Linked DNA regions of Homo sapiens: region 1 is linked to region 2. The links come from fine-mapping of genetic effects on gene expression. A gene starts in region 2. The other region holds a variant in brackets. All regions are shown on one strand. Distances are from middle to middle. Region 1 overlaps CEACAM3 (CEA cell adhesion molecule 3). Region 2 holds the start of DMRTC2 (DMRT like family C2).

Evidence for each region. PIP is the estimated chance that this variant, and not a neighbour inherited with it, causes the effect.
Region 1: its variant is the best candidate, but not a certain one, in a credible set for the expression of DMRTC2 in whole blood (TOPMed, PIP 0.54).

The regions. Positions count from the first base shown.
Region 1 is chr19:41,808,128-41,813,492 of GRCh38, reverse strand. CEACAM3 (CEA cell adhesion molecule 3) reads right to left here. Exons shown (of 7, transcript NM_001815.5): 3 at 4,563-4,680; 4 at 3,476-3,528; 5 at 3,139-3,170; 6 at 2,596-2,661; 7 at 1,939-2,321. The coding sequence ends at 2,256. Among named protein-coding and RNA genes, the nearest start is that of CEACAM3, 14 kb to the right of the region's middle. The variant C/T (reference allele first, on the strand shown) is at 2,125.
Region 2 is chr19:41,841,716-41,847,080 of GRCh38, reverse strand. It overlaps DMRTC2 (DMRT like family C2), which reads right to left and starts at 2,039. Exons shown (of 9, transcript NM_001040283.3): 1 at 1,980-2,039. LYPD4 (LY6/PLAUR domain containing 4) reads left to right here and starts at 2,398. Exons shown (of 5, transcript NM_173506.7): 1 at 2,398-3,503.

The sequences.
Region 1 (5,365 bases), 34 kb after region 2:
GCTGGAGTGCAGTGGCATTATTTTGGCTCACAGCAACCTCCACCTCCCAGGTTCAAGTGATTCTCCTGCCTCAGCCTCCAGAGTAGCTGGGATTATGGGCGTGCGCCAGCACGTGCAGCTAATTTTTGTAATTTTAGTAGAGCCAGGGTTTCGCCATGTTGGTCAGGCTGGTCTCGAACTCCTGACCTCAGGTGATCTGCCTGCCTCGGCCTCCCAAAGTGCTGGGATTACAGGTGTGAGCCACCACGCCCAGACACATCTCTTTTATTCTTAACAACTAAGCTTGTCACCGAGGAGAAGGTGGAGAGGTACTAGGGGCATGGAGAGCCCTCCGTCTCCCTCTCTCAGGACCTGGAGGGTGCTGGGACGTCACTGCAAAAACTGATGCCACAGTCAGGATAACCCTATCCAGGTGCCCATGTGTACTTTGTAGTGAACAATCATGATAAAATGGCCTTGAGAGGAGAGATGGATAGAACAAGCCCCTCTCAAAGATGCACACATCCTCATCCCAAGATCTGTGAATATGGCACATGGTCAAAGACACTTAGCAGATAAATGAAGGATGATGAGATGGGGAGATTATTGTGGTTTATCCAGGTGGGTCCAAAATAACCATACAAGTGAGACAGGGAGGCGGGGAAGTCAGTGAGGATGGAAGCAGAGCACAGAGAGGTTTCAAGATGCTGTACTGCTCGCTTTGAAGATGGAGGAAGGGGCCAAAGTTAAGGATGCAGGCGGCCTCTAGTAATTGGAAAAGGTGAGGGAACAGACTTTTCCCTGGAGCTGCCAGGAAGAACACAGCCAAGTGGACACGTTGTTGTTTTATGCCACTAAGTTAACAATGGAGTTGTCATCTCTGTTGCCTAGGCCAGCGTGCAGTGGTGTGATCAGAGCTCACTGCAGCCTCAACCTCCTGGGCTCAAGCGATCCTCCTGCCTCAGCCTCTTGAGTAAGTGGGACCAAGACACAAACCAACATGCCTGGCCTGTGGGAATTTGTCACAGCATCAACAGGAAACTGACACAAGAGACATCACCTTGTCTCATCTGACGATGTGTACAAGTGAGGTAAGGAGTCATTTAGAGCTAAATCCTGATGTAAATTTGCAGGTTGTTTTTCCTACTTCCCATCTCATGGCAAACAACCCTGGGCAGTGGCAGAATACCCTCAGGAACCGTGGCTCTGTGCTTTAGTGCAGGGACCAGCCTGATTGTGGGAAGGGGACACCTGGTCTGAGTGAACCTACATGAGATCATTACACTCCCCAGGGCCCTCAGGAGGGACAGAGAACTGCCGGCCCAGGTATGTGGTGGAGCTGCTGGTGAGGCCTGAGTGGAGGGCCCTGCAGGCCAGGGAGAAGAGGAGAGAGGTTGTCCCATTGCCATGGTAGACTGCGTGAGCTTTAGGTGAGAGAGCCCTGTGTCTCTGACCTGGAATCTCCTGTGTGGAGTGGAGGATTGTTCAGTGAGATCCACTCCAGGGGGTAAAGTGGGAACTGATGGGAAATGATGGGCTAGAGTCCCAGGTAGTGTCTGGGAGGATTTTACTCCAGGACTAAATTCTGGGTCTGTCCTCACCTTGATTACTCTGACAGGCCCTCTGTGTGTCCCCTGATATGGGTAAAGATGTCCTGAGCACTGGCCTTTTGGACAGAGAAGAAACCCAGTGGCCAGGGCTAGGCACCGTGGGTCCCTGGGGCAGTATGAGCACAGCCAAGCGCTCAGCTGGCTGGGCAGGTCTCCTGTGAATCCTGCCCTTTCCTGTGTAGGGTCCACCCCAGCCTGACTCCCAACCCCCTATTTCTGCCTCCCAGGGAAGAGAGACTGGGGTTGAAATAAGTTGGAGATGACATTTTCCTTGTGTGACCCAGGAGAGAATGGATATGGAGTTTCAGGCGAATTTTTGCTAAGTTCCCACTAGCAGAAAAACAGCTAATGAGAGGAAGGGTCCCCTTTATTCAGATCCTTTCCAAGTGACCCCAGGTGGGCCACAGGCCCATTCACTTTCCCTGCAAGCCCCCGCTTTCTGCGGTGATGAGAGGCCTTTGTCCTGACCCACCCAGGGCCTAGGGCAGGCTGTCGAGGTCTCCAGATATTCATCAGGGACCCCCATCCCTCCCTG[C/T]CCCCAGACACCAGTGTCTTCTCAGGACTTATAGCTGGTTCTCTGGCTCAGGCTTCATGTCCTTCCCCATCCCCAGGGCTGGGGGCCTTGGGGACTCTCCATCAACACACAGGAGCAGCTCCTGGAGGAAGCTAAGAAGCCACTTCTGCTTTGTGGTCCATCCGGCAGTAAATGTTTGTGTCATGTTTTAGCAATTCCTGTTAAAACAGAGAAGAGGCCTGGACCCCTCTAGTCTCCTCAGAACAGGGTGTGGCGTCTCCCAGGCTCTGGGCCCATCCAGGGCTGCTCTGGGGCTGAACCTGGCTGTGCTCAGGGGGTTCCTGCTCCCAAGCCCCTCCCTCCTCTGCTCGCCACCCCCGTTCTTATTTTCACAGCAGTTTCCTGAATCTCAGAGCTCAGCCGATGCCAGTAGGGGAAGATCCTGGGTCCCCTGGGGCCTGTGGGACCAGAACATCCGTGGCCCACACTCACCTCATAGATGGAAGCTGCTGTCCTGGGGTTGGGTAGGGGGGCCTGGGCAGTGGAGAGAGGGGACATCTGTGGACAGGGAGGGAGGGTCATGGAGGCCCAGCCTGGAAGTTTCCTGTCTCTGATTGGCCAGGATTTACTTCTCTGTGTTTACTTCTGGTCATTTCCCCTCAGGAGTGACCAGCTCTGCCCCTGAGCTCAGCCTCCCAGTGTGGACACAGCACCCTGACCCTTTTCCTGGCTGGGCCCACCCTGCACCCTTGTTAATGTGGGCCCCTGACTGATGGTCCCAGTGTCCACTCTGCACCTGCTGCACTCCAGGGGTCTCCTCAGGTGATGGAGGGTCCCGGGGAGGGGTCAGCACAGGGCGTGGGTGGTCCTGACCCTGTAGGGAGGCCCAGCTCCTGGCCAGGGCAGGGCTAGCCTTGTCCTGTGTGTTTTGGGGGAAGGTGGGTCTGTTCTGTGCTGGGGGGCTGATGGTCCCTCTGCCCAGAGCCTGCACAGCTGGGACCCCAGTAGAAAGGGGCTGGAAGGGGACAGGCTTACCGAGAAGGCAGAGCTGTGGGAGGGACCACGGCCTGGAAACAGAGACAGGAGTGAGCAGCAGGGTGGGAGGAGAGCCTTATCCCCTCTCCAGGAAGGCGTAGGGGGTCCTCAGCTCTAAGATACCTGAGCAGCTGAGGTTGGGGAGGTGACCCATGACCCAGAGCCCACAGGTGAGGGCTGACCCAAGCAATTGGGGTCCCCTGTGTGATGTTTTATGAGATCCTCCTTGCAGCCCCCGGGAAAGGATCAGAGTCTGCCTGGCAGTGACTGGCAGGAGCGGACACTGTGGGGCTGTCCTAGGGGTTCCCAGCCACACCTGGGCTGAGAGGACACTCACCAGGGGCAAGGGCTTGGGGCTGCTGCTCCTTGAGGTCACGCTGGATGCTGGTTCTAGGAAAGGTCAGGGTCATTTGGGAGGGTGCCAGGTTAAAAGCCACAACTTTGGAGTTCGAACAGGGGACAAGAAGGGAAACCCATTTTCAAGGATGGGCATGGAGACCTCCTGTCTCCCTCAGGTTTGTGTTAGGGGGAGCCCAGCAGAGGGGAGTTGAGGAAAGGCTTTAGGAACCCACATCTGTCCTGAGCAGAGGGGAAGGACCCTCAGGCAGATGCCGGGCCAGGAGAACATTGACCCAGGGACCCAGGAAAGGGACTGAGGACCCAAGGAAGGAAACAGACCACGAGGGTTTGCCTGAGAGGAAGGGTCAAGTCCCCAGAGGCAAAGCAGGGCCACGTGTGCAGGACACGGAGGGGACCGCAAGTGTCTTGGATTCTCCTGGAACTCAGTGTCCCTGCTGTGGCCAGACCCTGCACTCAGGGCTGGTGATGCTGAAATGGGACAGTGTCCTTGTCCTCTCTCTCAACCCCTTGGCAAGAGACACAAAGGACGCTCCAGGACATGCTGTTCTGAGGCCCAGGTTCTCCCATCTCACACCTCAGGGCCTATGGTTACCACATCAGCCATGGGGGGCACTGACCCCACCCAGCCTGTCCAGGCTGGTCCACTCCCCATTGTGTGACGGTGCCCAGGATCCGGAGCCTGCAAATCCCCCTCACTGTGTGGATGGATTCAATGAACAATGGGAGGTACCAAGTACAGAGCACGCCCTCCCTCCCTCCCTCCCTACTTCCCTCCCTCCTTCTCTCCCTCCCTCCAGGCAGCTGTGGCTTTGCTGTGTGAGGGAACTAGGGCCACACTCAGGGGTGGGGCCTTAATTGGGCCAAATTCACAGAGGAGGAAGCTGTTGAGGCAGCAACCCAGGGTCAGGAGCTGACGAGGGAGGAGCCGTGGAATAAGAGGGAAGGATCCCTGGGGACTTGGGAGGCCGTGGAGAGCCTGGCCCTGAATACAGGACAAGGTCTCCTTTCTTTTGGCCTGGAGTCAGCCTAGGGGGTGGGAGAAGGATGGGAAAAAGCTGTGGTACCTTCCAGTTTTGGCAAGGAGCAGGAAACACACCAGCGCGGCCACCAGCGCCACTCCGACCAGGACCCCGGTCACGATGCCGGCGACGGCCCCCACAGGAAGGCCTGGGGCATTTTCTTCTGCAGAAAGAAGAAGGCAAAGGGGATAGAGGCCCAAGTCTATCCCAGAGGAAACCACAGGGGCCTTGCAGGGAAGGTGTGCAGTCAGGGAAGAAGGAGATGCCATGGGGCCTGAGTGTAGTCTCTTGTGTTGTCCTCATCACAGATTCCCTTGCTTTCCATGGTGGCACCATTTTCTGCAGGCTTGACACACTGGGCGGCACCAACTCATACATTGTCCCAGAGGTGCCTGCACCTCACCCTGCTCCTGTGCCTTTTAGTCCCTCCTTCCTCTCGCATCATGCCTCTTCCCTCTGTTTCTCCTTTTCCATCCCATGACACTCACAAAGGGCAGGCCCTTGGCATCAACTCAATGCTGATAAGCAGGGATGATGTTCATTGACTGTTTTCAGGGGCCTTCCATGTGCCAGTTCCAGTGGGCACCAACCTACCTACAACTCATCTCATCCTTACATCACCTTGAGGGAGAGGGGGCATCACCCCCAGCTGCAGAGTTAGAATCTGAGACTTAAAGCACCTCAGTAAGTCAAGGAAGGTCACAGAACTCGTAAGTGATAAAACAAAATTTGTACAACATTCCAGGCTGGCCCCAAGGTCAGCTGTGAGAAATCAGAACAACAAGGGGAGGAGGGGTCCTGCAGAGGTGGAGTGAGAGGGCTCAGGGTAGAGTTTGGGATTTGCTTGT
Region 2 (5,365 bases):
CCTGAGTAGCTGGGATTACAGGCAAGAGCCACCATGCCCGGCTATTTTTTTTTATTTTTGTATGTTTAGTAGAGATGGTGTTTCACCATGTTGGCCAGGCTGGTCTCGAACTCCTGGCCTCAAGTGATCTGCCTGTCTCGGCCTCCCAAAGTGCTGGAATTACAGCCATGAGCCACTGCACCCGTCCCCCCTTTTTTTAATTTAAAAATTTTTAGGCCGGGTGCGGTGGCTCAAGCCTATAATCCCAGCACTTTGGGAGGCCAAGGCGGGTGGATCACAAGGTCAGGAGATCGAGACCATCCTGGCTAACACAGTGAAACCCTGTCTCTACTAAAAATACAAAAAATTAGCTGGGCGTGGTGGCGGGTGCCTGTAGTCCCAGCTACTCCAGAGGCTGAGGCAGGAGAATGGCGTGAACCCGGGAGGCAGAGCTGGCAGTGAGCCATGATCGCGCCACTGCACTTTAGCCTGGGTGACGGAGCAAGACTCTGTCTCAAAAAAAAAATTTTTTTTTAATTGTTTTTTATTTTTATAGAGACAAGGTCTCATTATGTTTCCCAGGCTGGTCTGGTCTCGAACTCCTGGGCTCAAGCGATCCTCCTGCCTTGGCCTCCCACAGTGCTAGGATCAGAGGCATGAGCTGCTGCGCCCGACATTCTGTATTCTTTCAATTCAAACATTCTTTTCTTTCAATCCAAACACTTTCCCACCCACACACACATCCTAGGTTCCAACCTACTCATGTCCTCACATACCCCTTCAGCGAGTCCTACATCCCCTTTTCACAAGCACCCTGTTCCGTCCCAACAGTGTTTCCTGGCATCCTCTTCAACAATGCTCACCCCACTCTCATGCATTCATCCAATGCCTACCAGTAGTTTTATGCCCCTTTCAATTCTTAGTTCAATTTCAATTCTTAGTCTCATCTATGCCCTGCAAAGCAACTGCCTCCTTGCATTCCTTTAGTCTTATTTTGTTCTTGTACCCCTTTAAATCAGAACCCTCTCTTGCACCCCCAATAATTACCTTATTCTCATGGATTCCCTGCTCCACTTTCTTTTTTTTTTTATTGACAGGGTCTCGCTCTGTTGCCCAGGCTGGAGCGCAGTGGCGTGATCATGGCTCACTGCAGCCTCCACCTCCTGAGCTCAAGCAATCCTCCTGCCGCAGCCTCCCCAGTAGCTGGGACTACAGGCTGGAGCCACTATGCTTGGCTCCCCTGTCCCACTTTCTTTCTTTCTTTTTTTTTGTTTTGAGATGGAGTCTCACTCTGTAGCCCAGGCTGTAGTGCAGTAGTGCAATCCCGGCTCACTGCAACCTCCGCCTCCTGGGTTCAAGCAATTCTCCTGCCTCAGCCTCCCGAGTACCTGGGATTACAGGCCTGTGCCACCACGCCCGTCTAATTTTTGTATTTTTAGTAGAGATGGGGTTTCACCATGTTGGCCAGGCTGGTCTTGAACTCCTGACCTGCCTCAAGCGACCTGCCTGCTTCGGCCTCCCAAAGTGTTGGGATTACAGGCATGAGCCACCGCACCCGCCACCTGCCCCACTTTCAAGTTATTTTCCTTCACTCCTTCATTCATTCCACAAATGGTTACTGAGCCCCTGTCATGTGCTAGGCCCTGATCTGGGCCAAAAACCTTCTCCTTGGGGCACTAATGTCTCTCTTGCGCTCACACCTTATTCAGGTTTTTGTGTAAACATGTGAAGTCACTGTGTCCAGCGCTTCCTGCTCCTGTGGCCACTACCAACAATTAATTTCATGCATGTCCCCCTCCCCCCTTCCCGTGCCCCAGGGAGCGAGTGGGGAACCGGGAACGCGCCAAGGGGCCCGCGAGGCAGGGAAGGGGAGAGGGGGCGCGAGGGCGGGAGGGGCGCGAGGGGGAGGAGAGGGGATGCCTGGGTTAGGGAGTCCGGCTAAGAGGGAGGAGGACGGAAAGGCAGGAGGGACCGTGTTCGTGCAGCTAGTTCACGGTTACCACAGCCTCCAATGGAGTCAGATTCAGTCAAGAAGACGCCCAAAGACACTGTGAGAAAGTGGCCAGAGGAACCGCCAAGCTCGCGCTGCTTTTCTTACCCTGTCTCACAAAGACCAATGAACTTCAAGCATCGCCTCTCTCAGCCGAGGCAGACGACCAATGCGGTTTGAGATCCTGAACTGATGTCCCGCCCCTTCCCTTCTGCCAGCTTCTTGGCGCACAAGACTATCAGTCCCACCAATAGCGCTTCGAGTTGAGCCTCGCGCCACCGCTGCCTCTCCCTCCGCACGTCCTGCCCGCCCAGACTGTCTTCCCCCTTTCGAGGCAGGTGGCCAATGGGGCGTCGAGTACCCCTTATTGGACCGAGGCTGGCCCCGCCCCCCAGGAACGGCCCGCCTGGCCCCGCCCCTGGGGCGTTGACCAAGCCCGGTCTGTGCACGGGTTGCCTCGTTTCTGGCCTTCCCTTGCCTTGTACCTCGACTTCGCGCGTGGCTTGTTTTTGCTGAGTGGAGGCCTGCGTTTTCTGTTATGTCTCTTCCGGTGCCCCACAACTCCTGAGCTACCCTTCTTTTATGCGTTCTCTCCCAGCGCTGTGATTACCGGGTTGCTTACCGGGCCCTCCTTCCTCAGATTGCACCCCTTTCCTTGTGTCTCTTCTTGTCTTTGTGTCGGTTGTGATTTTCCTAATCTCTGATTTTCCTTTTCTCTCGGACGCTCTCCCTCTTCGGACCCATTTTCTCCCGTGCTTCATGCCCTGATAGCCTGGCCCCTTCCCGGCTTCCTTCGCTACCGGGGACGCCTCTAGTTTTTCTGAATTTCTGGCTGGCTCCACCCTCCGCGTTCATCTTCCTCAAGAGTTCGCCCCTCTGGGGGCTCCTCTGTGTAATCGTCGCCTTCTCTGGGTATTTCTGTGAACTCCGTCTCACACCATCCCGCCATCTTCTCTGCCTTGGCCCCTTTTCTCTGTACAGCCAGCTCTGTGTCCTTTTCTTCTCCCCCTCTAAAATCGACTCCTCTTCTCCCTGAGAGCCCCACCTTTGTGCCCCACTCCTCATTTTCCTACGCCTCCCTCTCTCTGCTGGTCCTCTCTCTCCCTGCAAGGTTCCATTCCATCAATTTGTTTGTCTTTTGTAGGGGTGGCATCCCCTCTGACTACTGCTCCATCCTTTTTTTTTTTTTTTTTTTTTTTTTTTTTGCTTGAGGATTTCACTTCAATCTTTTCTGGTTGCGTCTCCACTTGTACTCAGCTTGTTAGGTCCAGGTCCAGTTGTTCTGCATCTGAGGCTGGCGTGTGCTGTCTTCTCTGATTGGCCTAATCTCCCTCACCCCCGTGAGATCTGTTGTCAGCCTTCGTTTCTCTTTCCTGTGTCCCAGCTTTTCTGCGGGTCTTGGCACCTTTCTTGGCCACAGATTTCTGGGTTACAGAGCATGTGTGTCTGAGGCATTGCAGGCAGAAAAGGGTGGCCGACGTGACCTCTAGCTGGACTGCTGGGCAGGGGAGCTGTCCTAGATAAAATTGGAAAGGTTGGGTGGCGCTTATCTGGGGTGGGGTGGGGTGTGGTCGGGGGAGGCTTAAAGGCCAGCTAAAGAGGTTGAACTTGATCCTTTAGGTAGTGGAGAGAGAGTGAGAGGAAGTGTGTGTGGGAGGGAGGGATAGTGGTAGAGGAACAGGGTAACCAACGATTATAAAGAGCTTAGCATTTGCCTAATACTTATGGTAATAATTTTATTGATCTTCACAATGACCCTATGAGATGTATTATACTTCATTTTATAAAGAAGGTAGTAGGCTCTGAGTTCAACAAATTGGACAGCTAGTAAATGAAGGGGTAAAGATTCCAACCTGGGTCTCTGAGGCCAAGGTCAGTGATCTTTGTACCCCCTCCTACACTGTTATTTTCCACCAATTCCCCACTTTCATTCCCTAACCTTCTTATAGGCAATTCTCATTCTAAGGTGGTTAATATGTATCTTTTGGTTTGTGTGTGTGTTCTCCCAGGATGTGTGTAGTGTTGTTGTTGGGGTTTTTTTTTTTTTTTTTTTTTTTTTTTTTTTTTTTTTTTTTTTTTAGCGATGGGGTTTTGCCATATTAACCAGGCTGGTCCAGAACTCCTGGCCTGAAGTGATCTGTCTGCCTTGGCCTCCCAAAGTGCTGGGATCACAGGCATGAACGACCACACCCGACCTCTGTTTGAGTTTTTAATTTATGCAAGTGATATTATGTTATATACTATTTGTAATAATCAGCACTGTGATTTTACAATCTATCCATGTACACATTCTGTCATTCTGTCATGATGTGTACTTTTTTTTTTTTTTTTTTTTTTTTTTTTTTTTGTTTAGACGGAGTTTCACTCTTATTGCCCAGGCTGGAGTGCAATGGTGTGATCTTGGCTTACTGCACCCTCCACCTCCTGGGTTCAAGCAATTCTTCTGCTGCCACAGCCTCTTGAGTAGCTGGGATTACAGGCTCCCACCACCACACTCGACTAATTTTTGTATTTTTAGTAGAGTCAGGATTTTGCCATGTTGACCAGCTTGGTCTTGAACTCCTGACCTCAGGTGATCCGCCCACCTCAGCCTCCCGAAGTGCTGGGATTACAGGCGTGAGCCACTGTACCCTGCCTCACATCCTGTGTACATCTAATCAACTTCTTCCAACTCCTGCGTGATATTCCATAGCGTACATCCCCAGCATGTTTTGCATTCACTTGGTCTCAGAGAGGGAAGCTCCCATTGTCTCAACCTACCATCACCACAATAATGCTGCATTCTCTGGGCATGGGAGCTCATGCCTGTAATCCCAGCACTTTGGGAGGCCGAGGTGGGTGGATTGCTTGAGCCCAGGAGTTTGATAACAGCTGGGGCAACATGGAAAAACTCCATCTCTACAAAGCTGGGTGTGTTGGCGCACACCTGTAGTCCCAGCTATTTGGGTGGCCGAGGTGAGAGGATTGCATGAGCCTGGCAGGTGGGGGCTGCAGTGAGCACAGCTGTCCTCCAGCCTGGGCAACAGAGCGAGACCCAGTCTCAGAAAAAAAAAATGCTGCATTATTGTGCATGTTCCTTTGTAGATGAAGGTGGACATTTTTGTAATACCTATGTAGGGTATACTGGAAATGGGTATTTATAAACCCAATTTGACCATGTAGTGTCAGACCCCTGCAATGCTGCTTTGGGCCTGAGATCCTGGTCAGAACTCTCAACTCCTTTGTTTCTCAGAGTCCAGAAATAGTGTTTTATTCCCCAGCCCTCCAAATAATGCCATGAGCATCAGGGGCCAAGGGTTCCTTTATCCCCACATACCTGCCAACACTTGTCTTTTCCCAGCTTTCTGATCCTTACCAGTCTGATAGATGTACAATTTGACAGATTGCATTTCCTTG